7 linked regions of the Homo sapiens genome follow. The protein of the gene in region 3 purifies or fractionates together with the protein of the main gene of each other region. This does not show direct contact. Each region holds a gene or a part of one and is shown on either strand. Other genes may lie near its edges.

Region 1 (3,991 bases), on a different chromosome or scaffold from region 3:
TTATGCACTCCTCCCTCCATATTTGTGAGAAATTGGTTCCAGAACCTCCCACAGATACCAAAACCCAAGGATACTCAATTCCCTGATATAAAGTGGCATAGCATTTGCATATAACCTACACATATCTTCCCAAATATTTTAAATCATTTCTAGATTACTTATAAGACAAATTACAATTTAAATGAGGAGTAAATCATTGTTACACTATATTGTTTAATACAATAAATTATGGCCACAACAAAAATTAAAAGGTATATACCAAAACAGGATAAGTTAAGAAACAGAAGAGCCTTGAATATTTTCCAAGCACCCTTGACTAATATTTTGGGACAGTTTGCAACAGCATGTTTGATTTTATTTTTATGTTTTTCTACACATAAAAACTATCTTAAAAAAATTCTTGGTGATCCTCTAATTACCCTGATTTGATCATTATAATATACGTTTGTGTGATATCAAAATATCACATGTACTCTGTAAGTATGTATAATACAACTATCATGTACCTATAAAAAAGATTTTAATTCTTTAAAATTAGCTTTGAAATACAAAAGTATTTGATATATCAATTTCTCAAGCTCACAGTCATTTCTGTTGATATACTTTTAGTTTAATAGACTTCCTAGAAGTGTTAAAAAGTTCCTAATTCCTAAATAAAATTAGTCTTTCTCAGCTCTGCTTAAGAAGCATATATTTCAACAAATTAAACCATGAGACACATTAGAACTCACACAGATACTAAATTTTCAAAAAATGAGTAATTTGGGGCCAGGTGTCGTGGCTTACACCTGTAATCCTAGCACTTTGGGAGGCTGAGGTGGGTAGATCACTTGACCTCAGGAGTTTGAGACTAGCCTGGGCAAGATGGTAAAACCCCATCTCTACAAAAAATACAAAAATTAGATGGGCGTGGTGGCTTGAGCCTGAAATCCCAGCTACTTCGGGGGCTGTGCTGGGAGGACTGCTTGAGCCCAGGAGGCAGTGAGCCGAGATTATACCACTGCACTTCAGCCTGGGCAACAGAGTGAGATACTGTCTCAAAAAATAAAAATAAAAAAAAAAAAGGAGTAATTTTAAAGGGTGTACTCACTATGAAAAATGGTACTGTGGTTTCTCAAAAAATTAAAAATAGAATTACCGTATGATCTAGCAGTATCACTTCCAGGTATATACCCAAACCAATGGAAAGCAGGATCCCACAGAGATTTGCAAATCCCAAATCCAAGATGCTTCAATGAGCATTTCTTTTGAGTGTCGTGTCAGTGCTCCAAAAGTTTCATATTTAAGAGCATTTTGATTTTGGAATTAGGGATACTCAACCTGTACATACAACAGAATATTACTTTGCCTTAAAAAGGAAGGAAATTCTGATGCATGCTACAAAATGGAAGAATCTTGAGGATTCTAAGTAAAAATAAGCCAGTTACAAAGACAAATACGGCGTATGATTCTACTTAGATGAGGTACCTAGAGTAGCCAAATTCAGAGACAGAAAGTAGAACAGTGGTTGCCAGGAGCTAGTGGGAGGAGGGAATGGGGAGTTATTGTTTAATGGGTAGAGAGTCTCCACTCTGTAAGATGAAAAGAGTCGGGGAGATTGGTTGCACAACACCATGAATGTACTTAATATTACTCAACTGTACACTTTAAAATGGTTACAATGGTCAATTTGTTACACAGTCCTCCCTCACACATTCCTGGGAAATTGGTTCCAAGACCTCCCTATCAAAATCTGAGAATGCTTAAGTCCCTGATATAAAATGGTGCAGTATTTGCACATAGCCTACACACATCTTCCTGAATACTTTAAATCACGGACCCTCAATCCCTAGGTCGCGGACGGGTATTGGTTCATGGCCTGTTAGGAACTGGGCCACATAGCAAGAGGTGAGTGGCAGGCATTACCGTCTGAGCTCTGCTCTGCCTCCTATCAGATCAGGGGTGGCATTAGATTTTCATAGGAGTGCAAACCCTACTGTGAACTGTACATGTGAGGGATCTTCGTTGCGCACTCCTTAGGAGAACCTAATGCCTGCTGATCTGAGGTGGAACAATTTCATCCTAAAACCATTCCCCACCCCCCCGCCACACACTGTCCCGTGGAAAAATTGTCTTCCATGAAACTGGTCCCTGGTGCCAAAAAGGTTGGGGACCTCTGCTTTAAATCATCTCTAGATTACTTATAATATAAATTACAACTTAAATGAGAAATAAATCATTGTTATACTATATTAAGGAATAATCAAGAGAAAAAAGTTCTGTATATGTTGAATAGAGACACAGTTTTTTTTTTTTTAATACTTACTTTTTTGGATACTTACGATTCTCAGTTGTTTGAATCCACAGATGTGGAAACCGCAGTTTTTTTAAGTGAGTATATAAAACTATGTGTTTAAAAATGGGAATGGGCCATAATGGCCTTCTTAATAAAGATAAAACTGATTATTCAATGATATTAAAATATTGAGATACTCATTCAAAACACATTTAAAAAGCAACTCTGGAAATGAGGACAATTAAATGATGCAGCCGAGAAAAACAGATAGAAGGATCATGTAGGTAATTTAGAATAAGAGTCCTAAATCTGGCCAGAAAGGAAACCATCAAAATGACTGCTGAAGTGGAACAGGTGATTTCCTAGAGAACAAGACAATCCAGCTTATGACCTCAGGCCCTCAATGTGCTCATTCATGCAGGAAGGTAAAGTGAACTGACATGATCAAAAGAAACAGCTTGTGCACATGAACTCACCTTCCTAAAGGACTCCTCTTCTGCATCATCCAGAGCAGTGTTCTCATCAAAGTCAATCACACGATCATACATCTGAATGTTATATTCATCCCAAGTCACAGTATCATCACTGTTTTTATCATATTCAACAAACTGTTGTTTTGCTTCTTGCATAGCATAATGCTTAAAAGACATCTGAATCCATGAACTGAGTTCACCTATGAGAATTTCCCAGAACACAACGCATGTGACGTTAATTCTGATACTTAAGAGTAAGGATTTCCAAACCTTCTCTGAAAAGGCAAAATCTTTGATGTTTGCAAATACTGAGAATTGGCCTAGTTGTATTAATAGAAATGGGGTAGGAAGTGGGAAAGGCTGTTTAGAAGAGCTCATGAAGCTTTTAATTATTTTTTTTTGAGATGGAGTCTCGCTCTTTCACCCATGCTGGAGTGTGCAGTGGTGCGATCTCAGCTCACTGCAACCTCTGCCTCCCGGTTCAAACGATTCTCCTGCCTCAGCCTCCTGAGTAGTTGGAACTACAGGCATGTGCCACCACACCCGGCTAATTTTTTGTATTTTTAGTAGAGACGGGGTTTCACCATGTTGGCCAGGCTGGTCTCTAACTCCTGACCTCGTGATCCACCTGCCTCGGCCTCCCAAACTGCTGGGATTACAGGCGTGAGCCACCATGCCTGGCCGGAGCTTCCATACTATAACATATGATCTAAATATAATGTAAGCTCCATAAAAGTTTGGGTATGTTCTGTTCACTGATGTACATCAAATGCCTGGAAAGTTCCTGGCTCTGTAAGTATTTGTTGAATGAATTACCAACTGGCCAAAATAGCACTTTACTTTTAAAAAAAATGTTATCCAAAATCTTGCAGAAAACCTTTGCTAACTACCACAGATCTCTCAGGAAGCATAAATATTTTGATAGCTATTTATTTTAGTATGTATGAGAAAAAACAGTGTTTTTTATTTATGAAGGTGACATAAAGTCTTCCTTTAAAATAAATTTTATGTGAGTTGAATTAAAACTATAGTAAGAAAATAATAGATGGTTAAGTAGATATGGCCTAAATTCTGAAAAGGTATTCAAGTGACTGAGAATACTGCTTCAGTATATTACCTTTAAATATGTTGTTAAAACATCTGGAGTAAATTTTAACGAAGTTATGGGTAGCAATTTATGCCCTTCCTGCAACAGCTATCTGTCTTAACTTGGTACCTGAAGGCATGGGAAAGTTTCTAAAAT
Region 2 (3,991 bases), on a different chromosome or scaffold from region 3:
AATACATGAAAAAATCTCAACTTTATACTCTACATTAATAATCATTTTTTAAAAATCATGTGCAGGAGAACATTTAGAAATAAGATGTGTTAAAGAGGGAGTGCTGAAACCGCAGCAGCCCTATGCCACACACAGGATTTCATGAGGCACCAGTGTCACATAACAACTTGGGGGCTGGTGCACACGTACTTACCGGTGCATCTGCCACAGGCGAGGTCTGCGTGAACAGTTGGGTATTCAGACTGTCCCCTTCCCAGTGGTGTGAGCAGAAGAAGTTTCCTGATTTATCAGTTGGAGATTCCACCTAAAAGCATATAGAAAGTGCTTTGTTGTTTCTAGAACTTCCTATGAAACATGTACAGTCAGGAGTATATTTCTGGCCAGTCCCTCAAATACTTTTATAAAACTATGTTGCTAACTTACACTATCAGCTCAATTTGCTCTATCTTCTGGATTCAACAAAGAAACACTGATGGCAAATTTGAAATGTGACTAGCTCCAAATTTACTGCCCCTGTAAAGCTCCTACGTTTTCAACCAATGTTCTGATTCTAGGTGTTTATTCTATTAAGAATATATTTTAATGATACACCTAGTAGTGTTGTATCCGTCAAGGATTTTATTTTGGTGACATAAAAGATCTTTTGGTGACAAAAGACTGGTTTTTAATCACATTCTGGTAAAATTCTCCATTACTAAATAATCAAATCAGATTTTTAGCTATAAAAAAAAATACTTATCTTTACATGAAAATAAATTCAAGAAGCACTGTATCTAACCTGGTGGAAAACAGCTGTTGCCAACAAGCTAAAACTTTGATCCTTGCAGGTTAGATTCTCTTTTTTAATTTTAATTTTTATTTTTTTTGAGACGGAGTCTTGCTGTCTCCCAGGCTGGAGTGCAGTGGTACGATCTTGGCTCACTGCAAGATCTGCCTCCCGGGTTCACACCATAATCCTGCTTCAGACTCCTGAGTAGCTGGGACTACAGGCGCCCGCCACCAAACCCAGCTAATTTTTTTGTATTTTTAGTGGATACGGGGTTTCACCATGTTAGCCAGGATGATCTCGAACTCCTGACCTTGTGATCTGCCCACCTCAGCCTCCCAAAGTGCTGGGATTACAGGTATGAGCCACCGCGCCCAGCCTCCCTTTTTTTAATACAATTAATTAAAGATACTATTATTTTAATTTAAATTCCAATTCTTCACATCTAAAAATGAAATATCAACTTTATATAATCAGTAATGTTTAAAAGTACATTAAAAACCTCTTTCCCTCCCTTTTCTTGATACTCTCTAGTATGTTTTCTGTCCAAACATGAAGTAGATAGAGATGGCTTGGCTTCCCAAAGGAAAGGTTGATGATGCCTACAGTCTGGCAGTACCTTTTCGCTGCACCTTGTATGAAAATCTTGCACGAAAAGTCGTGGTGTTGCACAGTGCCAATGGCAGACACATCAAGCTGCACACAAGGAATAAAGGGGGCAGGATTCTCAGCTTGTTGCTTCCAAAGGGTTGCGTGTTTACCTCTTGTTTGATTTTCTTCAGTAAGGGTGGTCCATTTTCTTGAAACTCAGCAACAATTCCAGATTCATCAGATTCCTGTTTGATCACATCCTGCAGATCTTCTACTAGATGAGAGGGTGTCTGAGGCTAAACGGAAGAGTGGGTATTTTTGCATCAGAGAGAACTCCTAATGGGACTAATAAACCAATGAAATCCAAAAACTTTTCTAGAACTTACTAGCATCTTCAGGGGACCGTATTTAATTTCTTGAGCTGCAAGTGCATGTTTGAATGGTGTAGGAGTTCTTGGAGAGCTTTCTAAGATTGACCTTTTGATAGCTGGGGTTCTAAAACTTTAAAAAGAAAACAAGCAGTGGCTCAATACAAAAGAATAAATGTCCCTACATGGCTTTACCTGTTACATTTAACATTTTTCCACTGAATACAATAAACTCTGTTCCGGATATGGAATTGGGGTGTGCTGATTAATCACGTTATTCGTTAAGAAAAAGAGAATATGCATATCACATATTTTCAAATATTTCAAAATATTATACCTCGAAGACTAAAAGCATTAAATGATTTAACATCTTTCCTTAATGGCTCTGAAGACACATGTAGTGCCTATGATCTGTATAAGACTATGAGCATCAAGAAGACCTGATGTCATTTACAAATCAGGTTTCCCTATTCATGAAAACAGAGCCCATACTACAAAACATGTTAAACTTTTAAAATTTACTTTTTGTACTTCGAAATAACAGTGCATTTCTTTTCAAGGTTTCTGATAATTCACACTTTCTCTACCATTTCTCTGAATTGATTAAGGCTTTATTGAATAAAAATGACTGCTTACTCATCCCTTGGCTTCTAATCATATAATATTCCTGGGGATGTCAGAAGAGGTCCTATCTACACATAAATTCAAAAAGAAAAAATAAGATTAAAAAATACAAACTAAAAATAAATAAATAATAAACAAATAAAATTAAATAAAAATACAAACTAGGTAAGAAACCATACTCGTTCTTATTCTGAAGCTTACAATTAGAGAGGAAAGGAGGTTGAAAATCTGGCTTTCATAAGAAGGCCTTATGGAGGGAACAAACAAACCGAATGGAAAAGTTTTATGAAAACTACTTGTGCATATATAGGAAATTTTGGAGTAAGTTACAAAAGGAATCTAGTTTATCTTCCCATCTTCTACCTGTAGGTAGTTGTAATATGCCCAGGACAGATATATTCAATGTGGGAATAGACATGATTATATATAAATGGTCAGTAAAATTATGCACATACAAGTGGATCAGACATCTGGGAACTATATTCCATTAATTAAATATAAGTAAATAAGATAAATCATTTTATTCCTGAACCAAAGACTTACACAGTATTTTCCTTTTGAGTTTTCACAGTCTGGTCTCTATGAAATGGTGTTGTAACAGTCAATTTGTGACCAATGAGGGGGGTGGAAGTTAAAGAAGGCATTTCCAAGTCTGAGTTTTCATGGTTACTGGAAGTGTTTAAGAACTAAATATGGAGAGAAAGAAAAAATACTTAGATTAGATGGTAATTCTTTATTCTCCCCAATTTAAAAATCACACCTAGATAACAAGAATGTTTTCCTGACCCACTATATTAAATAATAAAGATGCTAACAAGCATGTTATATTGACTAGGGTATTGTTTTATTTCAATTGAGCACCCAGGATTTGGGTGTGGTTTCCAAGAAATAAAATTTAGGGTCATTGCTGAAAAACTTGCAAAACTGTGAGAAAATACTCTCAATAAATGACACTTGTCATTAAAGAGAATGAGATGTGTTCTTTATTAACATTTAAAAGGCTTTAGTGATTTTGGGGAAAATAATAGTTAATAATTAATAGTTTCCTTTCATACTTTGTTTTTTCTCTTTAATAATCTATGAACCAAAATTAGTATTACAGAAGGTTTACATTATATGGAAAATTCTTGAATAATAAACTGTGTCTCTCAGAACACTAAAGTTCTGGGAAAAAACTAGGTGTTCCTTAAACAATTCCAAGGTAAAATAAATTTGGGAAACACAACATATCATAATCTCCTCCTGGAAATTCACAAGGCACAACGGCATATTAATAACTCTGAGAAGGCCTGCAGTTAAAAAAAAGAAAGTTTTTAAAGAAATGGGATCTCGCTATGTTCACCAGGCTGAACTTGAACTCCTGTGCTTAAGCAATCCTCTTGCCTTAGCTTCCCCAGTAGCTAGGACTACAGGCCCATGCCACTATGCCCAGCTAAGAAACCTACTTGTAACTTTGTTTGATTCAGTGTTTCCCAAATGTATATACCTATATCATACCTAAATCTGTTCTTAAAACAAATTCAACAGATACAATTGGAAAAATGTTTTAAAGTGCCAAATTATCTATTAATTTAATTATTTAAATAATTTAGGAACACAAATCTCTGATAAGAATTGTGATTTTCATGCCTTAAAAAAGCTG
Region 3 (3,991 bases):
TGAGGCAGAAATCATGGTCCCCATTTCCCAGTGGAGGGAATGGGGTTTCAGAAGCATCATGTCACCCACCTGATATGGGTCACATGGCTGTGAAGGATAAGGGTGGGCCAGGCGCGGTGGCTCACGCCTGTAATCCCAACACTTTGGGAGGCCAAGGCAGGTGGATCACTTGAGGTCAGGACCAGCCTGGCCAACACAGAGAAACACCATCTCTACCAAAAAATACAAAAATTAGCCAGGCGTGGTGGCACACACCTGTAATCCCAGCTACTGGGGAGGCTGAGGTGGGAGGATCCCTTGAACCTGGGAGGCAGAGGTTGTAGTGAGCTGAGATGGCACCACTGCACTCCAGCCTGGGTGACACAGCAAGACTCCATCTCATAAAAAAGGCTAGGTCTTGAACCCCGGGCTGTCCGTTGGGTTGTGGTTCAAGGGAGTGGAGTCATCCAAACTGTACCTGGGCCACAGGAGGTGGGGTCTCTGAAGCCTTCTGCTCCTCTCCAAGGACCTCATTTAGCTCCGCCTGCAGGGACACACAGCCAGGGCAGGATATAAGGGCCTGCTGGATGGGGGCAACCGGATCAGAGCCCCCACCCCGCCCTCAGTGCTCACCAGCAGGTCATCATCAGCCTCCAAGTCGTCCTCATCCGTCCCCTCCTCCTCATCCTCATCCGGGTCTCTCATGCACAGGCTGGCCATCTTCTCAATGGCCTCCATCGGCAAGGGACCTGGCGGTAGGGGGATGCCCCAGGTGGACCAGGGTCGTACACCAAGAGCCCCCATTTCCCATCCTGGACACGCTAGGTGATCCCACTTCTCGCTGACTTCCCCATTTCATCTCTTCCTTATTCAGCCTCAGGTCTGGGGCCTGGCTACCTGAATTCAAAACCCAGCTCTGCAGACCGGGCACAGTGACTCACGCCTATAATCCCAGCACTTTGGGAGGCCGAGGCAGAAGGATCACTTGAAGTCAGGCGTTCAAGACCAGCCTGGCCAACATGGTGAAACCCTGTCTCTACTAAAAATACAAAAATTAGGCTGGGCGCAGTGGCTCACGCCTGTAACCCCAGCACTTTGGGAGGCCGAGGCGGGTGGATCACAAGGTCAGGAGATCGAGACCATCCTGGCTAACACGGTGAAACCCCGTCTCTACTACAAATACAAAAAATTAGCCAGGCATGCTGGCGGGCGCCTGTGGTCCCAGCTACTCGGGAGCCTGAGGCAGGGGAATGGCGTGAACCTAGGAGGCGGAGCTTGCGGTGAGCCAAGATCGCGCCACTGTACTCCAGCCTGGGCGACAGAGCGAGACTCCGTCTCAAAAAAAAAAAAAAAAAAAAAAAAAAATTAGCTGGGCATGGTGGCGTGTAATCCCCGCTGCTAAAGAGGCTGAGGCAGGAGAATCACTTAAGCCCAGGAGGCAGAGGTCGCAGTGAGCTGAGATTGCGCCACTGCACTGCAGCCTGGGCAACAGAGCAAGGGTTTGTCTCCAAAAAAAAAAAAAAAAACACACACACACAACAACAACAAAAAAAACCCCAGCTCTGCAACTTTCTCTCTGTGAGAACTTCGGCAAGTGATGTCACCTCTCTGAGCCTCAGTTTCTCCCTCTGTGACACGGGGATGACAACAGTTCCTCCTTCATAGGTAGGTTGGAGCAGAGAAGGTCAATGAAGCTCTTAGAATAGCATATTGCCAATATCTTGTTATTAGTTATGTTACATTCTATAAAGCTGCTTTGAAGACTAAATTAATGACTATAAGACTGTTGCTCCTAGGGGAAATTTAAGCTTAGGTTCCTGTGAATCTCCAGTCATAACCTTTTTTGGAGACAGGATCTTGCTCTGTCACCCAGGCTGGAGTGCAGTGGCCCAATCAGAGCTCACTGCAGCCTCAAACTCTTGGCCTCAAGTGATCTTCCTGCCTCAGCCTCCCGAGTAGCTGGGATTACAGGCATGCACCACCACACCCAGCTCTGGTCACAAAATTTTAATCAACTGATCAATACACAACCTTGCTCTATGTGTGTTTCTGTTTGAAGACACCTTCCTGAATAGATATCGTTCATTCATTAACTTTGAATTCACAGCCAACAGCACAGTAGTTCATGCCTGAATGAAGCTTCTCTCTTTTTTGTTTTTTGGAAACAGGATCTTGCTCTGTCACCCAGGCTGGAGTGCAGTGGCGCAATCTCTGCCCACTGCAACTGCTGCCTCCTGGATTCAAGCGATTCTCATGCCTCAGCCTCCCAAGTAGCTGGGATTACAGGTGTTCGCCACCAAGCTTGGCTAATTTTTGTATTTTTAGTAAAGACAGGGTTTCACCATGTTGGCCAGGCTGGTCTCGAACTCCTGGCCCCAAGTGATCTGTCCACCTTGGCCTCCCAGAGTGCTGGGATTACATGCATGAGCCAATGTGCCTGGCTGACATGAGCTTATTGTGTGTGAGGGGGCCCTGGGTGAAATACTTATGGACTCCAGATTAACTCCTATAACATGGTTATTATTCCAGTTTTACAGATGGTGAAACTGAGGCCAAAGCACATGATGTGACTCATCAAGTCACATAACCAGTAAGTGGCAGAGCTCGGATTCCAACTCTCAGTCTCGGTCCAGACTTGATCTTTTTTTTTTTTTTTTTTTTTTTGAGACGGAGTCTTGCTCTGTCGCCCAGGCTGTAGCGCAGTGGTGCGATCTCGGCTCACTGCAAGCTCCGCCTCCCTGGTTCACGCCATTCTTCTGCCTCAGCCTCCTGAGTAGCTGGGACTACAGGCGCCCGCCACCACGCCCGGCTAATTTTTTTTTTTTTTTTGTATTTTTAGTAGAGACAGAGTTTCACCGTGTTAGCCGGGATGGTCTCAATCTCCTGACCTCATGATCTGCCTGCCTCGGCCTCCCAAAGTGCTGGGATTACAGGCGTGAGCCACCGTGCCCGGCCTCAGAGTCGATCTTGACTCTCTTACCCAGATCATTGGCTCCAGGAGAACAGGGGTCTTCTCTGTCTTCTTTCCCCTACCTACCCAGTGCCCCCAGTTCTGCGCCCGAACCACTTGCAGGAGATCAGAAAATGTTCTGAGGGTGTGTTAACCATCTCACCTTTGCCTTTGAGCTTCTCCAGGGCTGGGGGCTGGCCCCCGACCAAAGCCAAGAACTCAGCCTCCAGTTCTTCATCGTTAGCCCCGTCCTCAGGGATCATCAGGCCATCTGGGGAGAGGTCAACCAGCAGGCCCAGCTAGGGGAACAGCAAGGGTTCAGTCAGACCTTTGGTTCACCACATGGCTAGAGGCAGCCATGATGGCCAGAGAGTCCCCTTGGGAGGAAGGAAACAAGGTCTCCCAGGGAAAGCCATTTCCCTGGGGAGTGCCAGGAGGCTGGAACAAGCCCAGAACAGGTGTTCCAAGATAGGCCAGGCCCTCTGGCACAGTTCAACCTGGGGCAAAGGGCAAGAGACCCAGCTCTCTGATCTGAATCCACACTTATGATGTGCTGCTGGGCCAAGTTCAGTGGGAAAAGCAGGCCCCTGGCTGGGCGCAGTGGCTCACGCCTGTCATCCCAGCACTTTGGGAGGCCAAGGCAAGAGGATGGCTTGTGTCTGGGAGTTCCAGACCAGCCTGGGCAATACAGTGAGACCCCCAACTCTACAAAAAAAAAAAAAGTTTTTTGTTTTTTGTTTTTTTTTGACACAGAGTCTCGCTCTGTCACCCAGGCTGGAGTGCAGTGGTGCAGTCTCAGCTCACTGCAACCTCCGCCTCCGGGGTTCATGCCATTCTCCTGCCTCAACATCCCGAGTAGCTGGGACTACAGGCGCCCGCCACCACGCCCGGCTAATTTTTTTTTTGTATTTTTAGCAGAGACGGGGTTTCACCTTGTTAGCCAGGATGGTCTCGATCTCCTGACCTCATGATCTGCCCGCCTCGGCCTCCCAAAGTGCTGGGATTACAGGAAAAAAAACTTTTTAAAATTAGCTGGGAGTTGTGCTGTGTGCCTGTGGTCCC
Region 4 (3,991 bases), on a different chromosome or scaffold from region 3:
AAGAACATTCTGCTGCTGTTCTAAGATATTCGGTCAGTTTTTCTGTGTTTCAGTGCACTTTTCCTTTACATTATCAGATTGAAAGCCACCCCCTCTTTCCTCTAGTTTGCTGCTGGCTGATGAAACACAACTGAAGAGAGACTACAAGCTTCTGATAGAGGGCAATCATTTTCACCCACCAGGACCTGTGCCCCTCACTCCTCACCCATTTTCTTGTCAACCAGCAAGTATTATTGGCGGGGAAAAAAGATACTCTCAATATTAGTAGCATAATTTGTTTTCAAATTTTGTTGTAAAGAGCAAAGATTACAGCAGAAACCCTGTAAGTCAATATAAATGACCTCCCCCTCCCAAGAAAAGCCAGACCAAAAAAAGAATTCTGGTCCTTTGAGGGTAGCAAGTTGAGAATCACTCTTCTAAATATTGTTTTATAAAAACATAAAGATAACTCTATTGAGCACCTATATGTAATACGTTGCCACTGTACTGGACACTTAGTATGTTATTCCCAATAGTCATAAACAATCCTGGACAGTATTCTTGTTTTACAGAAAAGGAAACTGAGGCTCAGAGAGGTTGAGTGACTTGCCCAAGGTCACACACATATTAAGAGCCATAATTGGGATTCAAACCCAGGTCTTTCTGACTCCATAGTCTGAGCTCACCACTACATGGAGATGTCTCCCTGTGTTGATAAAAAGCTGATCTCCAGCAATGTGATATGATACTGATGTGAAATGGCACTTCTTAATAGGAGAACCTAGTGGAATATTTGGCTTTCAGAGCAGATTCCTAACCTCAGAAAAGTACTGGTAAAGGTTATGTAATACTATTTTACAAACCTTGAAAAGTTCAAACACCATGTGATAGAGATGGGATGGTACATAAACCACTTGTATTGGCTGTCCTGGTGATTTTGCTACAGAGCAGAAGAGAAAAATATGAAAGTACAGAGAGATGTGCTTAAAGCATTTTTAAGAATAAACTGTGTAGTGATGAAAAGAAAACATTAACTACGGAGGACAGTATTACCTGGGGGAGAACTGCCACACCATTTCTTCAATGTATTAGTGTTTGAACCCATACCCACAAATATTTACAACTGATGATGACAAGAGTCCTGTGGTCACTTCTCACAATCTTGCATCACAATCGAACCAACCCATGCGCCCATTTTTCTCTAGGATGGTAAAGTCTTTTTTAAGATCGCTTAACTTTCGGGTAGGAATTTTACTTTCCAAATAGAGAAGTGTTAAAATCTTTAAATTCCACAGTCCAATTCACATGCATGCATACATTCTTCTTCTTCTTTTTTTTTTTTTTTTTTTTTTTGAGACGGAGTCTTGCTCTGTTGCCCAGACTGGAGTGCAGTGGCGCGATCTTGGCTCACTGCAACCTCCACTTCCCAGGTTCAAGCAATTCTCCTGCCTCAGCCTCCCGAGTAGCTGGGATTACAGGCGCCAACCACCACGCCTGGCTGATTTTTCTTTTAGTAGAGACGGGTTTCACCATATTGGCCAGGCTTGTCTCGAACTCCTGACCTTGTGAGCCACCCGCCTCGGCCTCCCAAAGTGCTGGGATTATAGATGTGAGCCACTGCGCCCAGCCCATACATTCTTTAAGCCATTTTCAAAATGTTTCACCTGGGTGGAATATTGTTTTATTTCAGGCATTTCGATGGATATAAAGCTGAATAAAAAATATGAGCTAGCATCAATTTCTCGAGACAGTAATTAATTCTACATTTAAACACTTAATAGGAGCCCCACTGGGGGTGGTGATAGGGGTGTGTATAAAACAGACATTTAGTAGAACAAATGATTAAGACTCATGATATCTTAGAATTCTAATTCAACCAATAAATCAGACCTTCCTCTGAATAAACTCCCCCTTGGGAACAAAAATGGGACATCTGGAAATTGCTCACAGCAGTTCAGGTTTGCAAACTATCACTTACTTGTACACTGTGATTGTTATTTACCAAATGCTATGCTACCATCATGGCTCAAAAGAGTTAATATGGCTTTAGAAAATCACCAAGCAATGCTATTTTCAATTGCATAACTTCACTGCTCTCTCACTCTAAGGTCCAGAATACAGCTTAGTAAAAGCCTATTTTGTTTTATTCTTCCCACACCTTCTTAAAGTGTCATCTTAGGAAATGCTTTTTTCTGTCAAACTACCATGCTTTCAGGAAAAAGAGACTCATCAATCCCTCTTCAAGGCATCTAAACCCTTTTTGTCCAAAAGGCACTAATCAGGGTAAAAAGAAAACCATCAGAGACAAACAGATTCTCAAATAGATGAGCATCTTTCTTTCCTCTTTTATAACCCCAGTCTATGTCCTCAACAACAGAAAATTATTTACAACTCAGGAAGTAGAAAAAGGGTAAGTCTTACATTAGTGAAGTGCATGTAAAAGTCAAATGTAACTTTCTTGGTATCATTTTCTTTCTATGACTAAACAGAAAATAAAAAATAAGCAAAGAATCAAAGTTATCAATTAAAAATAAAGAAAATGTGATACAAAAAGCCAAATCTTTTCATAAAGAATCTGACTAAATTACATATGTTTATAGATATATTTTTTACATGATTACTATCCTTTAGCCTTCATATCCAACGAAGTTGATAAAAAGTCATCTTCCATTAAAACATTTAAATTCTTATCCCTTATCAAGTAATCAAAGCACTAATTATTGAGAAAAAGACAACATCAGGCTTACCATTTAGTTCTTCAAGTTCTAGTTCGGGAGAGTTAATATAATACAAATCACACAGACGCCTAGCATTTTCATAGCCATCTAGTGTGAATCAAAACAAAACAAAAAAGGATTTAATAAATATACTTCTCTTTCACGCATTAAGATGGCAATGGTATTGACAAATCAAAGTCTTGAACTCTCTACAGAAGAAAATATACTTTGATAGTTTGGTGAAAGTCTGCTTTTTTTTTTTTTTTTTTTGGTAGAGACATGGTCTCCCTATATTGCTCAGGTTTGTCTCCAACTCCCAGGCTCAAGCCATCCTCCTGCCTTGGTGCTAGGATTACAGGCATGAACCACTGCCCCCAACCAGGGAAAGCCTTTCCTTTTTTTTTTTCCTTTGAGACGGAGTCTCGATCAACCAGGCTGGAGTGCAGTGGCGCTATCTCGGCTCACTGCAGCCTCCACCTCCCTGGTTCAAGCGATTCTCCTGCCTCAGCCTCCCAAGTAGCTGGGACTACGTAGGCATGGGTCACCACGCCCAGCTAATTTTTGTATTTTCAGTACAGAGGGGGTTTCACCATGTTGGCCAGGCTGGTCTCGAACTCCTGACCTCAGGTGATCCACCCGCTTCAGCCTTCCAAAGTGCTGGGATTATAGGCATGAGCCACTGTGCCTGGCCCAGGGAAAGTCTAAGTGTGACATGACAAAGCTGAATAGCCATAAACAATGAATGACAAATATAACTACAAAAAAAATGTAAAAGTCTATATGCTAAAAAGACACCAACAATGTAAAAAAGAAAAATAACAGGCTGGAGAAAATAATTGCTATCTATGTAACAAAACTTAAGAGTTGGTTAGGAAACACTCTTATCCATTGTTTGAAACCTTTTTGGAGATACCAAAATTTTATATGCATTTAAATGTTTTTAATTCTAGGAATCTCACCTCTAAAATACTAGCAAAAGTGAGCGTGTATTTAAGGATGTTCACAGCAGTACTGCTGGTATTGGTGGTAACAGAAAAAAATTAAAACAACCTAAGTGTGCATGAACAGGAGAATTAATTAACACATACTGATACATTCCATAGAGCCATTCAAAACCTTGGAGCATATCCAGATGTACTGAACAGCAAGATGTCTGTAAACTTGTAGAAAAAAACATAGAGCACCCCATTTTCTAAAAACAACAATGTAAGACCAACATCAATTGTGTATGTGTACAAGTGGTATAAATAGAAAAAAGTGTGAAATGATTCAAACCAAATTGTTATGAATTACTG
Region 5 (3,991 bases), on a different chromosome or scaffold from region 3:
CCAGCCCGGGCCCCCAACACTGCCCCACCCGGCCCCCGGGAGCCTCCCGGCTGCCCTCACCCTCCAGCACCCAGTGATCTCCACAGCTGCTCCCTCTTCTCTCTGACTCCCTGGCCTATGACCACAGGCCTTAGACGCCATCTGGGAGCAGGTGGTGGCCGCCTCATCTGCCCAATCCCACCCACCCCACCGCCCCTGCCCCGCACGCACCACTCGAGGTCGAAGTCAAAGTAGTTCTTGGCCTCCTGGCAGATGTTCTTCCAGAGCTCCTGGGGGGTCATGACAGCCCAGGCTGTGTTATCTGCAGCCCCCGGGGGCCGGTTTTTCCTCCTCTTATTCCGCTTCTTGGAGACCAGCTCGTCGGCGGGCAGGTGGGCCACGGGGTTTGGGTAGGAGCTCAGGAAGCAGTTCAGGAAGTGGCTGATGGCGGCTGAGAGGCCGGAGAGCTCGACTCCCTGCGAGGCAGGTTGGATCCGAGTCATGAGGGCCCTCAGCCCCACCTCAGGCTCTTTCCCGACGCCCCACACCACCCTGGGAGGCCATGGCCAGCCGCAGAGCGGACGGGTGGCACCTGTAAGTACGTCTTGAAGATGTGCTTGGCCGAGCGGGTGATGAGTTCTCCAATGCCGATTTTCTGGAAGGATTCAGAAGGGAGGTCTTGGTCAGGCCCCCGGCCTCCATCCCAGTCCCACAGCTCCCGTTCCGCCCCACCCCGGGCAGCACTCACAAAGACGTGGTCCAGCTGGTGGCGGGCCGGGCTCCGCAGCACCAGCTCCAGCACCTTGCCCAGGTAGCGCATGTTGATGCCCCGCTGGCGCATCACCTCTGCCAGCGTTGCCCCGTCCACGGGCAGGACCGCGTGCTCCATGCAGTCCTTCACCTGCGGGCTGCAGCAGCTCAGGCCCCCACCCAGCTCCTCTGCCTCCACCCAACTGAGTCCTTCTGGGGGAGCACAGCTATCCTGGGAGGCCCTGGAGAAGGACCCCGAAGGCTCCAGCTCCCAGTCAGGATGTCAGAATGTGCCCAGCCTCTGGCAGGAGCGCAGGCCAAGAACCAAGAGCCCGGTGGTGGTACAGGCCCCCTCTAACCATGTGGGAGAAGCAGAGGTGCCCGCTTGGGGGCACTACTTGACCCCCAGCCCCGTGTCCTGAGGCTTGGAGGCCACGGTGTTGGGGGAGCACCCAGCATCCTGGAACCAGACACAGAGCCTGCGGGAGGAGGAGGAGGATGGGCAGCCCCCACTGAGCTCTGGCCCCGTCCCCCAGCCATGCCACCATCCAGGGCTCAGAAGACTGGATTACCAGCTGCCAGCCCACACGGTGGGCTCAGCAGGGCCTGTGCCCTTGACCTCTGGGGGTCAGGCTCCCCATCTGTCAAACGGGGATGCCCACTCAGGGAAAGCTGAAAAAGTCACTCCTGCGAGCCTGTGTTCATGGGCCTCCAAGTCGGAGACAGATGAGGGACCAGCACCCTCCACACAAGCCCCACCCAGCCCCGCAGCCCCTCCCTCACCAAGCCAGGGATCTGGCAGGAGAGCAGGAAGGCAGCCGCGTCCTTCAGCAGCTGCTTCTGGTCCCGAACTTCATCCTGGCAGGACTCAGGGAAACGAACCCCTGGAGGAGGGAGAGCAGAGAGGCTGAGCCAGGCAGTGGCAAGACAAATGCCGCCTGGCGCTGGCGGGGGAAGCGCTCAGATGGGGGACAAACCCACCAGCCCCAAGGGCCCAGGCCCCCCAGCGAAGCTCTGGCCCTGGAGGGCTCCTGCGCTGGCCGGCCCCCACCACCTGCCTGGTGAGAAGATGTCAGGATTGAAGCGAATGTCGAAGGCGGTGCTGCTGATGGAGCCGACCGCCTTGCACGCGTTGCGGATCACCTCCCGGCTCCGAGGGTCTGCTGTGGAGACATGGCTCCATGAGACACGGGTCCCCTCTGCCACCGGTGGAGCTGGGCTGCGCCAAGCCTCGCCCCCTAGCTCCTTGCAGAGATGTCTGCCAGCCTCTCCCAGGTGGGGGTCATAAGCCACCCTGGCAGGGCCAGCCCGGGCTCTCTCCCGGCCATCTGCAGCAGCCCCACCTGTGCCGTCGTCTGCGGCGATGGTCTCTGCCAGCTCCTTCACCTTGGCCAGGCCGCTGGCGCTGCTACCCTCCTCCTCACTTCCCGCCTCCTGTCCTGGAGGATCCTCAGACTTGGACTCCAAGGAGGAAGGACCACCATTTTCCAGGGAGGAGGGGGTCTCCAGCTGGCTGGCGTTCTGCTGCATCAGCTGCAAGGCGGCCAGCTTCATAAAGAGGAGGTACCTGGAGCAGAGGAAACAGGGCAGAGCAGGAGCTGGACATCGGGGAGAGGAGCTCTGCTGGCCCACGGCTCCCGGCAGCTGGGGCTCCACACCCCGCAGGCATAGGGCACCTCCTGGCCGGTGTGCATGAGTCAACGCAGAAAAACCAAGATCTCCCAAGACAGGAAGAAAAAGGCGGCCGGGCGTGGTGGCTCACGCCTGTAATCCCAGCACTTTGAGGACGAGGCAGGCAGATCACTTGAGGTTGGGAGTTCGAGACCAGCCTGACCACCATGGAGAAACCCCGTCTCTACTAAAAATACAAAAAATTAGCTGGGCGTGGTGGTGCACGCCTGTAATACCAGCTATTCGGGAGGCTCAGACAGGAGAATCACTTGAACCCGGGAGGCAGAGGTTGCGGTGAGCCGGGATCGTGCCATTGCACTCCAGCCTAGGCGACAAGAGTGAAACTCCGTCTCAGAAAAAAAAAAAAAAAGGCAGCTGCGTTCTGGAGGGTATGGGAAAAGAGGAGCTCCCCATCCAGGTCAGGGCTCTCAACAGTGACAGGAAGCCACTGGCATTTGAGAGTTACTCATGCTGTGGGACCTCTGACATGGCCATTTCCCCATTTCCTAAGCACTAAACACCAGCGGCGGGGACCCCCGGTGCCCCACCTGCCCGCCCCAGCACGGGGACAGTCACAGCCACCCAGACTTCCAAGTGCTCCTTAAGAGAACAGTGTCCGCCACAGCCACATTACCCGCCTGGCTGCTCGCGAGTCTGCAGCCCGGGTTTCTGCGCTCGGGAGCCTGACAGCAGGGCAGGTGGGGACGGGTCTCCAATGACTGTGGCTAGACGGAGCCCTTCTTCACTCTCCAGCGCTTCTCCCTTCAAGGACCCAACCCCGGATCCACCCAGGGCGCCCGCACTCCCTGCAGCTGGCCCCGGCCCTGGTCCGGCAGGGCCGCCCCTCACCTGTGCTCCACGAAGGCGTCCACCAGCTCCTGGCGCAGGCAGCAGAGCTTGTGCCGGTGGGCGCGGGGGAAGCCGGCGCGGGCGCATTCCTCAGGCAGCTCCTCGCCAGGCACGGGCAGGAAGTTGAGGTCCGGGGGGAAGGTGCGCAGCAGGTCGAGGATGTAGTGGCGCCCGTCGTTGCCAATGATGCCCTTGCACTCGACCGAGGAGCAGAGCTCCACCTCCTCGTCACGGTCGTTGAGCACCTGGTGCCGCAGGATCTTGAGGGGCCGACTCGTGCGCTCCAGCAGCTCCAGGTACCGCGGGTGTGACACCACGGTCTTGCCGAAGTCGATGGAGCCGTAGATGACGCTCTGCTCCTGGTCCCGCTCCAGGATGCCGGGGATGATGGACTGGGCCGTGACCCGGTAGCCGCGGTAATCCACCACCACCGTGCCCAGCGTGTACAGCCCCTCCACGTCCACCGCGTTGTACGTGCGGACGCCATTCAGGTCGTTGGTGGGCGCCACGTAGGCCGCCACGTCCCCCCCGAAGTCCTTGTAGTGGTCTCGGACGTCGAAGCCCAGGCTGAAGAAGATGTTGTTCCAGATGAACATCTGCATCTTGGTCTCCTCGCTGGGGTTGATGGCCATCACGTTGCCGTCAATGACGGCCATGGCGCCCCTGGTGGCTGCCGCGGTGAAGTCGCTGTGCACCTGGCGGGGGTCGAGGAGGGCAGGGTTAGAGGCCGCGCCCACAAGAG
Region 6 (3,991 bases), on a different chromosome or scaffold from region 3:
CTAACTTAGCTCCTCTAACTTTTGCTTTTTGTTTGTTTTTCATTTGGAAATGTACATGAAAATAGTACCAATCTTACAAGGTTGTTATGGAGATTAATTGAAAATGCAAGGAAAGTATATAGTGTGGTGCCTGGCATATGGAAAGCCCTTGATAAATGCTCGTTGTTTAGCATTATTATTGTAAAATGGGGATAATAATACCTTCCTTACAAAATTGTCATGAGAGTAAAAGGAGGTATTTTGTATGAAAATCTCTAGATCAGTCTCCTGCACATAGTAGGCCCACAATACTTGTTTTTACAAATTAGCCAGTGATTCTGAAGGCTTTTTATTGTTTTGAAAGTTGTGACAAAGGAGTCTAATGAGCCATTATTTTTAAAGCCTTTCTTTAGGGGAGGGTCACTCTTTTGGAGTCTGTGCATAGCTTGGGAGATGGTGTGGACATGAGCAGACACCTTCCTGGCATCCAGATTAGGGAGCAGATCCCTGCTTCTCAGAACGTTAGTGATGCTGCACTTGGACTGGCCTCAGTATTCTGTGAGAGGGCTTACAGTGTGTGTTGTTGTTTGTTTTTAACTTTTAAAAATAGAAATTTACAAATATTCACAGTTGAAGAAATAACCACCAACTTCAACAATAATCAATATTTTGCTGATCTTATTTTATCTCTCTTCCCTATTCCAGACACCAGACACACACAGACACACACACACAAAAACACACACTTTTTTCTTCTAGAAGAGTATAAAGTATATCCCAGACATCATGTCATTTTACTGTTAAACACTTTAGTATGCATCTTTAATGATAAGCAGTTTTTAAACATAACCACCATTGCATTCTTAGCTGATTTCTTGATGAGATCAAGCAGAATGTAGCAGTAATCAGTGGTGAAATGCCTGTGCCCAAAATGAGCATTTTAATGCAAAATATTAAATTTAGTTCAATTCAGCCAGTATGTTAGTATTTTTTATGTACAAGGCACTGCATGCACAGCACGTACAGAGAATCAAGGTGGCAGTCCCTGGCCCTGGGAAGAGTCCTGTGGAAAGCCCATAAGACATACATACGAATAACCAAAGTTCAAGGCAGGATTCACATAAAACCCTTAGAGAGCAGGGAGCTTGGCAGGTGGTGGGATTTGTTGAATACGAAATAGGAGTGTGACATGTGAGTTCAAAGGAGGCATTCTCCGTTGAGTAGGAGAGGATACACAGAAGAGGTATGTGCATGACAGGCCTTGAAGAAGGGCACAATCTCTGCAAACCATTTTTAAAATTGTAAAACAATGTTAAAGGACAATCTCTGTCCATGCACCAAAACAAAAACGAAATCAGAACCTGCTCCTACTCCTACCATTCTGACATGGTGGAATCATATCTTCTCCAGGAGTGTAAGTCTAAAGTTGAGCTACAAGGCTGGTGGATAGCTCAAATGAACCTGCCCCTCGTAAGTTCACAAGCCAAGAATCCACTTATTTTTGTTTGCCTTTGCATTAAAACTGAGGCCTCCTTTTCTGAGGCCTAAGGTTAGTTTTAAGAGAAAATGAAGAGACCAACTGTTGAGGTCAATGAAGAGATTTTTCTTTCCTTCCAAGCTGGAATTCCTATAGCTAGATGCACACATTGTGCAAGTCCCCCGTACTCTCATTCCGCTGTGTTTGGGTATGTAGGATTCAAACAGATTGATTTCAGGGTGGAGAATGGAGTAGAATGAAAGAATCTCTTCAGTCATTATTTAAACTACTTATCGAGCAGGTGGCCCAGGTGCTGAGGCAGACAGAGCAGCAGGAAGGAAGGCGGAGCATAGGAGTAGCTAGGGAATGGTGAGAGGTGCCATCTGAGTGGAGTTGAGAAGGCAGTGGGTGCTGCGGCTGGGTGCACGCAGTGGAGGGCCTCGAATGCCAGGCTGGGGAGCATTTTCTTAACTCAGTAGGTGAGGGAAGAAGCCATGGGAGGTTTATGGAGCAGATGCCCAAGCAGTCATGTCAGTCATGTCAAGTGGCAATGGGAGGTTGTTATTATAGTCTTGGCTAGAGGGAGTGAGGGCCAGGGTGAAGGTGTTCTTCATGAGGTTTTCACTTCTATTTGCAAATATTCATAAAGTGTCTACTCTGCATCAGGCCTGAGAACAAAGAAATGGAAGAGACACTGAGGAGGTAGAATGTGCGAGACTTAGGAACCCTCAGAGTGGAGAGGTGGAAGGGAAGGGAGAGCGTTGAAGATGGCACACCTTTGACACTGAGTGACCTTGAGAATGAGTGGCGGGAATGTGGTAGCAGGAGTGGTTGAAAAGTTTGGAGGTGGGGCTGGCTGTGTTTGGAACAAGGTTTTAACTCTCTCTCTCTCTCTCTCTCTTTCTCTCTCTCTCTCGCTGGCTCGCTGTGTGTGTGTGTGTGTGTGTGTGTTTGTGTTTGTGTGTTTGCAGAGGCAGATGTGGAGTGAGGTGAATTCGGTTGTGAGCGTGCTGTAGTAAAGACGCCATGGATGCTCAGTTAGAATGCCCAGACCTCAGCTCAGGCCAGTGTTTGGGTCTGGAGGCTAAGGAAGAGCTGGGTTTTCATGTCTGGGGGAGTGAGCTTTGGGGTGTGAGCAGGCCAGGGAGTGGGAGGAGAGAGAGAGCTGCCCAGGTGATTGGCACAGGAGCTAGTTTTGACCACCTTTTCTGTGTGTTCTGTGATCTGACCACTAATAGGTCAGTCAAGTCACTCCAACATGTTTTTTTAATTGACAGATTAAAATTATATATGTTTATGGTGTACCACATGGTGTTTTGAAATATGTATACATTGTTGAATGGCTAAATCAAGCTAATTAACATATCCATTACCTCACATACCTATAATTTTTTGTGCTGAGAATGTCGAAGATCTGTTCTCTTAGCAGTTTCCAAGTATACAATACATGGTTATTAACTATAGTCACAATGTTGTACAATAGATTTCTGGAACTTATTCCTCCAGTCTAACTGAAATTTTGCGTCCTTTGCCTAGCATTCTCCCCTCTCCATCCCCCAGCCTCTGGTAATCACCACTTTACTCTCTGTTTCTATGAGCTCAGCTTTTTGACCTCCCACATGCGAGTGACATTATGTGGTATTTGTCTTTCTGTGCCTGGCTTATTTCACTTAACACTGTCCTCCAGGTTCATCTGTGTTGTCGCAAATGGCAGGATTTTGTTCTTTTTTTTTTATGGCTGAATAGTAGTCTATTGTGTATATATACCATATTTTTTTAATCCATTCATCTGTTGATGGACACGGGTTGATTCCATATCTTGGCCCTTGTGAATAATGCTGCAATGAACATCTACCATCTTTCATCATAATTTTGACAGCCTTTGAAAAGGTGCCACTCTGAAAGAATCTGCACGGGGGTGGAAGTAAACCATTAAGGATCAAAGGGTCTGTCACCTGTGAGGAGACAGAAGAGGAGTCCCCACAGGCAACTTCATGGTGTTTTGGATCACACTGGTCAGTCAGGCTGAGGCGAGGGCCTGCAGGGAGCTGTCTTCTGGGTCACATTCCCTGTGGCAGTAACTTAGTGTCATGGCAGCACTGCACTCAGCGTTCCTAAAAATCATGTGTCAGTCAGTGGAACTTAGAAAATATGAAGTTTAGAAGACAGTAGGTTTGGTTCATCTGTGAGCTAAGGATGCACTTGAAAGGTGGTAGAAGACAGGGCTCCGTTCCCATCTGCCACTTTTGAACTGTGTGGCCAAGTCACTAACTTCTTTAAAGCTCTCCCCTCAGAAATGGGAACTGTGAATAATGATCACAAATATATACACGTGTATGTGTATATGAATATGTGTGTACCTGCATACACACACACACCAGGCACCAGTCTAGGCATTTTAAGTACAGTATATTTTAACTCTTAACCCTCACAATAACATTATGAGCTAGTTACTGTCATCCCCATTTGTATGGGTGAGGCACCAGAGATCTGAGTAATCTACCCAAGGTCAATAGCAAGTAAGTGGCAGAACCA
Region 7 (3,991 bases), on a different chromosome or scaffold from region 3:
AGATACAACCCAAACGCAGACTTGGCATCGGATGACCCCACGGAGTCACCGTGCATGTGTCTCTGACTTGATGGCACTGCAGTGGCTTCAGAGAGGGTCGCAAATACCATGCCACAGCGCCCGGGGTTTGCCTGAAGGTACTTCAGCAGAGAGAGTGGAATGGGCAGGGGAGAACAGATTAGGCAAGGGGGCTTTGGAGGGGATGGCTTCTGGACTGCACGATGGGTGAACACAGTTTTTTAAACTCTTTTCCACATCTGTATAGGTTTGAAAATTATCAACAACTCATGGGGAGGGTGGCGTGCCAGGTCATGGCTGCCTGGAGCCCTTCTGAGGAGGGCCGGCTCAGCCGAGGACGCCCTCCCCACTACGAAGTAGGCACTGCGGCAGGAGTCGCCACCCCCACCCCAAGGAAGTTCAGAACAGGCAACAGGAGGAGCCTGACTCCAACAGAGTTGGTGTCATCCGGCGCATCGCTAAGGACGTCACAACACATCAGCTCTGGGAGCCCAAGGGGGTGTGTGGTCCACTCAAGGGGAAGATGATCCAGAAGCTCCGCTCCCTCCCTTTGCTTTTGAAGAACACAGGAGTGACACGTGGGGAATCTACCGGCTTAATTTCTTCTTAGTAACAGGCATAGTAGGATCAAAAAATTTTTGCTTCTAATTTTTAAAAACATTCAATGTGTACATTAGCACACTGGCAGAAAGACATACCTGCTTAGGAAAGAATTCATCTGCTGAAGACATAAAACTAGTACCTTTGTTTTCAAATCTTCACTTATCTGAGCAGCAACTTGAAGATTCTGTTCAAACATCTAAAAATCAGAGAACTTATGAATTCTGGTATAATCTTACAGGAGTATACTAAGAGTGCAGGTTTGCTGTTATATGAAACCTCCATCTGCTAACTGGCATTTAGGATAGTCCAAATTCAGAGAAAAAAAAAATGAAACCACGTGAAAAATAACAAAGTTAGTTTAAAAAAAAAAAAAACAACTTTCTCACCTGGGAAAGTACCAAGTGACTCATTTCTTAATTCCTGGCAAACTGGTTTCTCCCACGGGGGCCATGTCTGTCCTCACACTACGTGACTGGAGTTTTAATGTGTGGAGTGAGGCCCCACCCGGGATGGCGCCCCTCAGGCACCTGACTCACCCTCCCTGGCCCCATGACTGTCATGATGCAGAGTTCCTAAGAATCTGGACCTGGGGTGTGCCAGGCCCTGCCAGGAGCTGACCCAGGCAGAGGAAGGGCAAGGGGACAGAGCTCTCCTCACAGTTTCTCACGGCATCTGTTTCCAAACAAAGGAAAGGGTTTGGACTAGCCTGTCAATAACTAACGGTATCATTCAGAGAGAAATGTCACCCGCCAGCCCTCACTCCTGCCTAACTAGAGTCCTGAGTGAGGATTCTAACACAACGGGGCTCCATCCCTCAGCAATGCCACTCAAATTAAAACACATGATGTGCCAAAAGAAAAAAAGAGCAGGAAAAACGGGACACAGGGCGGTCGGACACTGGAAAGTGAATCCGTGGTAAGAACACACCGGTTCTAACACCTAGTGAGGCTTGGGCGTTGGAAAGTGAATCCGTGGTAAAAATGCAGGTCGGTCTAATACTTAGAACCTTAACCAATGAACAGGAAAGCAACTTTAAAAGCTAATGGACGCCTTGACCCAGGAGGTAGAGATTGCAGTAAGCCAAGATTGTGCTACCGCACTCCAGCCTGGGCAACAGAGTGAGACTCCGTCTCAAAAAAAATAATGGACGCTCCCAAAATCCACCTGTTTAAACTCAATCATGTGCCATTTTTTAGGACAAATCCTGGATATCGACCAAACAAACTCACATTTGAAAGTCGCACATAAATAACATACAATTAGGCTGTAGTCCAAACCCATAAAGACCAGGTCAGAAAAGTAAAGTGACCTTGGGCAAAACTATTTGGTAAGTATCATCCCAGGTTTCTGCAGCTCCAGAGAGTAAGAGACAGAGAGAGGAGAGGACTTAGATGCACCAGGCAGGGCTCTCAATATTTTTACTACACTCTGTGGATGAAGATCCCAGGTATCTGTGTCACTTTGTAAAACCTACAGGTCCCACTATCCACCTAGGAAACGGAACTGTGCCAGTCCCCTGCAGGTGGTACCTGGAAGACAATGGCAGGGAGTGTGGTCTGGTAGTACCCGTCCTGGTCGGCTTCTGGCTCTGTCTCTTTGACCCAGTCTTTCTTGTCTGTCTCCAGCGCTTTCCGCAGCCAGGCGATGATGTTTGACTAAAGAAAGTTCAGCATCATGGAGAAGAGAAGAGAGAAGAGCAGGTGCCTGAGGGTCATGCCAATTACCTGGTCAGTTGCATGCACAAGCTCCACAAACCAGACACAGGGCACCAGCGTCCTCTTTCTCAAATGAGGACTCCAGAGCAGGGACCCAGGAGCCACCCCCATGGGAGGCAGTGACCACAGCAGCCCGCAGGGGTTTAACTGGAACCCTTGGTACAGATAAAGAGGGAGAAGAAACTAGATGCCCTTTTGGCTGCACCTCATGCTGGAGGACAAGGCCGCTGAATCCCAGGTGCACAGAGAATGAGGCCGACCAGGTCCGGTCAGGCCTGTTCCCATGCCCAGACTCAGCAACCACAGCAGCTCACGTCCCAAGAGAAGACAGCGCTCCTTCCCCAGCTCCTGAGGACACCTCGGCTTCTGGTCATAATGCTGCCTTGCTAGGTGGACGCACCCTTGTCTAAGAAGCAGACCCTGCTGACCTCCTCTTCTCACTCTGAGACCACCTGGTGGTCACCAGGCTGCAAATGGACTCGCCCTTTGGTCCTTGACGGACCCCCCCAACCATGGGACTCAGAGCCGAGAGCCTGGCAGGTGCTGCCACACACGGTTCAGACGTTCTGGGCCCTGGCCAGCCTGCCGAGTAGGGCACAGGCTCACGTCTCCAGCAGAGGACAAGCTTCAGATCCAGGCCCAGAGAAGGGGCCATTCTCCTCTTCTAGCAAACTGACCTGTCAAGGCCTGGAAGCAGAGCCCGGGCAACTGAGCAATGCATCCTAGGAAGTCAACGCTAAGGCATTTCCCCCCTGCCTCCTGCCTGCTGCCAAGCCCTAGTTACTCATATAACCAGCACGGTGGTCTGTGGCACGCAGGCCAGCCCTACTCACAGTGAGCGTGGACATGTACGTGTCAAGCAGCTCAGAGACCACGTGTGGAGAAAGCAATGGCTCCAGGGTGCCGACATCCACTTCCGGGGCCAGCTCCACGTTCCTCATCATCTCAGTACTATGGGGGAACCAGGAATGTGAGTGACAAACCACGACAGACACAGAAGAGCATGCCCAAGTGTGCCGAGACTGTTTCACTTGACACATGAATGTCCACCACCCTGGAGACTTCCTGGTCACAGCCGGCCCACAGCTCAGGGGAAAGTGCAGGGCAGGGGCCGAGGGCTTTGGGGTCTCTGTGGCATCACCCCACTGGCTCCCAGACTGCGTGAGTCCCTCCAACCGGGGAAAGTGCAGGGCAGGGGCCGAGGGCTTTGGGGTCTCTGTGGCATCACCCACTGGCTCCGAGACCACTTGAGTCCCTCCAACCCCAGCTTCACCCTGCTGCGCCAGCTTCATGAGGTGCTGGGGCTCAAATGTGGAAGAGCCTTTCCTGTGGGGAAGACGTGTGTTCTATTCACTGCACCTGCAGAGCCGAGGCAGGGCCTGGCAAACAGGAGGCGCTGAATAAACAAACGTACTCAGTCAAAACGACAAGCACAGCCGCCCCCACAGCCACGGGCGCCACGTCCACTGACTCAACCAAACACAAACTGAAAGTATTTGGGAAAAACAACAATAAAAAATAATAAAAATTTCAAAAAATATAGAACAACTATTTCCATAGCATTCACATTGTATTTAGTCTTATAAGTAATCTAGAAATGATTTAGAGCATGAAGGAGAATGTACGCAGGTTACGTGCAAACACTATACCCTTTT

The links.
Region 1: the proteins of CC2D1A (region 3) and RCN2 purify together in Homo sapiens (affinity purification with mass spectrometry, with the first as the bait; one large-scale study listed by BioGRID). This does not show direct contact.
Region 2: the proteins of CC2D1A (region 3) and MYB purify together in Homo sapiens (co-immunoprecipitation; one large-scale study listed by IntAct). This does not show direct contact.
Region 4: the proteins of CC2D1A (region 3) and PDK1 purify together in Homo sapiens (affinity purification with mass spectrometry, with the first as the bait; one large-scale study listed by BioGRID). This does not show direct contact.
Region 5: the proteins of CC2D1A (region 3) and CLUH purify together in Homo sapiens (affinity purification with mass spectrometry, with the first as the bait; one large-scale study listed by BioGRID). This does not show direct contact.
Region 6: the proteins of CC2D1A (region 3) and PTGFRN purify together in Homo sapiens (affinity purification with mass spectrometry, with the first as the bait; one large-scale study listed by BioGRID). This does not show direct contact.
Region 7: the proteins of CC2D1A (region 3) and EXOC3 purify together in Homo sapiens (affinity purification with mass spectrometry, with the first as the bait; one large-scale study listed by BioGRID). This does not show direct contact.

Annotation. Positions count from the first base shown.
Region 1 is NC_000015.10:76,934,483-76,938,473, reverse strand, and holds part of RCN2 (reticulocalbin-2 isoform a precursor), read right to left. Parts: intron 2,949-3,991; coding exon 2,752-2,948; intron 1-2,751.
Region 2 is NC_000006.12:135,197,952-135,201,942, reverse strand, and holds part of MYB (transcriptional activator Myb), read right to left. Parts: intron 3,036-3,991; coding exon 2,893-3,035; intron 2,418-2,892; exon of another isoform or gene 2,362-2,417; intron 1,859-2,361; coding exon 1,744-1,858; intron 1,654-1,743; coding exon 1,528-1,653; exon of another isoform or gene 1,386-1,527; intron 305-1,385; coding exon 194-304; intron 1-193. UniProt on the Homo sapiens protein: Transcriptional activator; DNA-binding protein that specifically recognize the sequence 5'-YAAC[GT]G-3'. Plays an important role in the control of proliferation and differentiation of hematopoietic progenitor cells.
Region 3 is NC_000019.10:13,909,060-13,913,050, reverse strand, and holds part of CC2D1A (coiled-coil and C2 domain-containing protein 1A), read right to left. Parts: intron 3,229-3,991; coding exon 3,093-3,228; intron 729-3,092; coding exon 613-728; intron 524-612; coding exon 458-523; intron 1-457. UniProt on the Homo sapiens protein: Transcription factor that binds specifically to the DRE (dual repressor element) and represses HTR1A gene transcription in neuronal cells. The combination of calcium and ATP specifically inactivates the binding with FRE.
Region 4 is NC_000002.12:172,565,669-172,569,659, reverse strand, and holds part of PDK1 ([Pyruvate dehydrogenase (acetyl-transferring)] kinase isozyme 1, mitochondrial isoform 2 precursor), read right to left. Parts: intron 2,805-3,991; coding exon 2,727-2,804; intron 2,461-2,726; coding exon of another isoform or gene 2,444-2,460; exon of another isoform or gene 1,638-2,443; intron 920-1,637; coding exon 843-919; intron 1-842. UniProt on the Homo sapiens protein: Kinase that plays a key role in regulation of glucose and fatty acid metabolism and homeostasis via phosphorylation of the pyruvate dehydrogenase subunits PDHA1 and PDHA2.
Region 5 is NC_000017.11:2,694,647-2,698,637, forward strand, and holds part of CLUH (clustered mitochondria protein homolog), read right to left. Parts: intron 3,945-3,991; coding exon 3,250-3,944; intron 2,297-3,249; coding exon 2,073-2,296; intron 1,893-2,072; coding exon 1,788-1,892; intron 1,614-1,787; coding exon 1,513-1,613; intron 881-1,512; coding exon 728-880; intron 635-727; coding exon 572-634; intron 456-571; coding exon 211-455; intron 1-210. UniProt on the Homo sapiens protein: mRNA-binding protein involved in proper cytoplasmic distribution of mitochondria.
Region 6 is NC_000001.11:116,954,770-116,958,760, forward strand, and holds part of PTGFRN (prostaglandin F2 receptor negative regulator precursor), read left to right. Parts: intron 1-3,991. UniProt on the Homo sapiens protein: Inhibits the binding of prostaglandin F2-alpha (PGF2-alpha) to its specific FP receptor, by decreasing the receptor number rather than the affinity constant. Functional coupling with the prostaglandin F2-alpha receptor seems to occur.
Region 7 is NC_000005.10:456,185-460,175, reverse strand, and holds part of EXOC3 (exocyst complex component 3), read right to left. Parts: intron 3,288-3,991; coding exon 3,170-3,287; intron 2,277-3,169; coding exon 2,151-2,276; intron 818-2,150; coding exon 717-817; intron 1-716. UniProt on the Homo sapiens protein: Component of the exocyst complex involved in the docking of exocytic vesicles with fusion sites on the plasma membrane.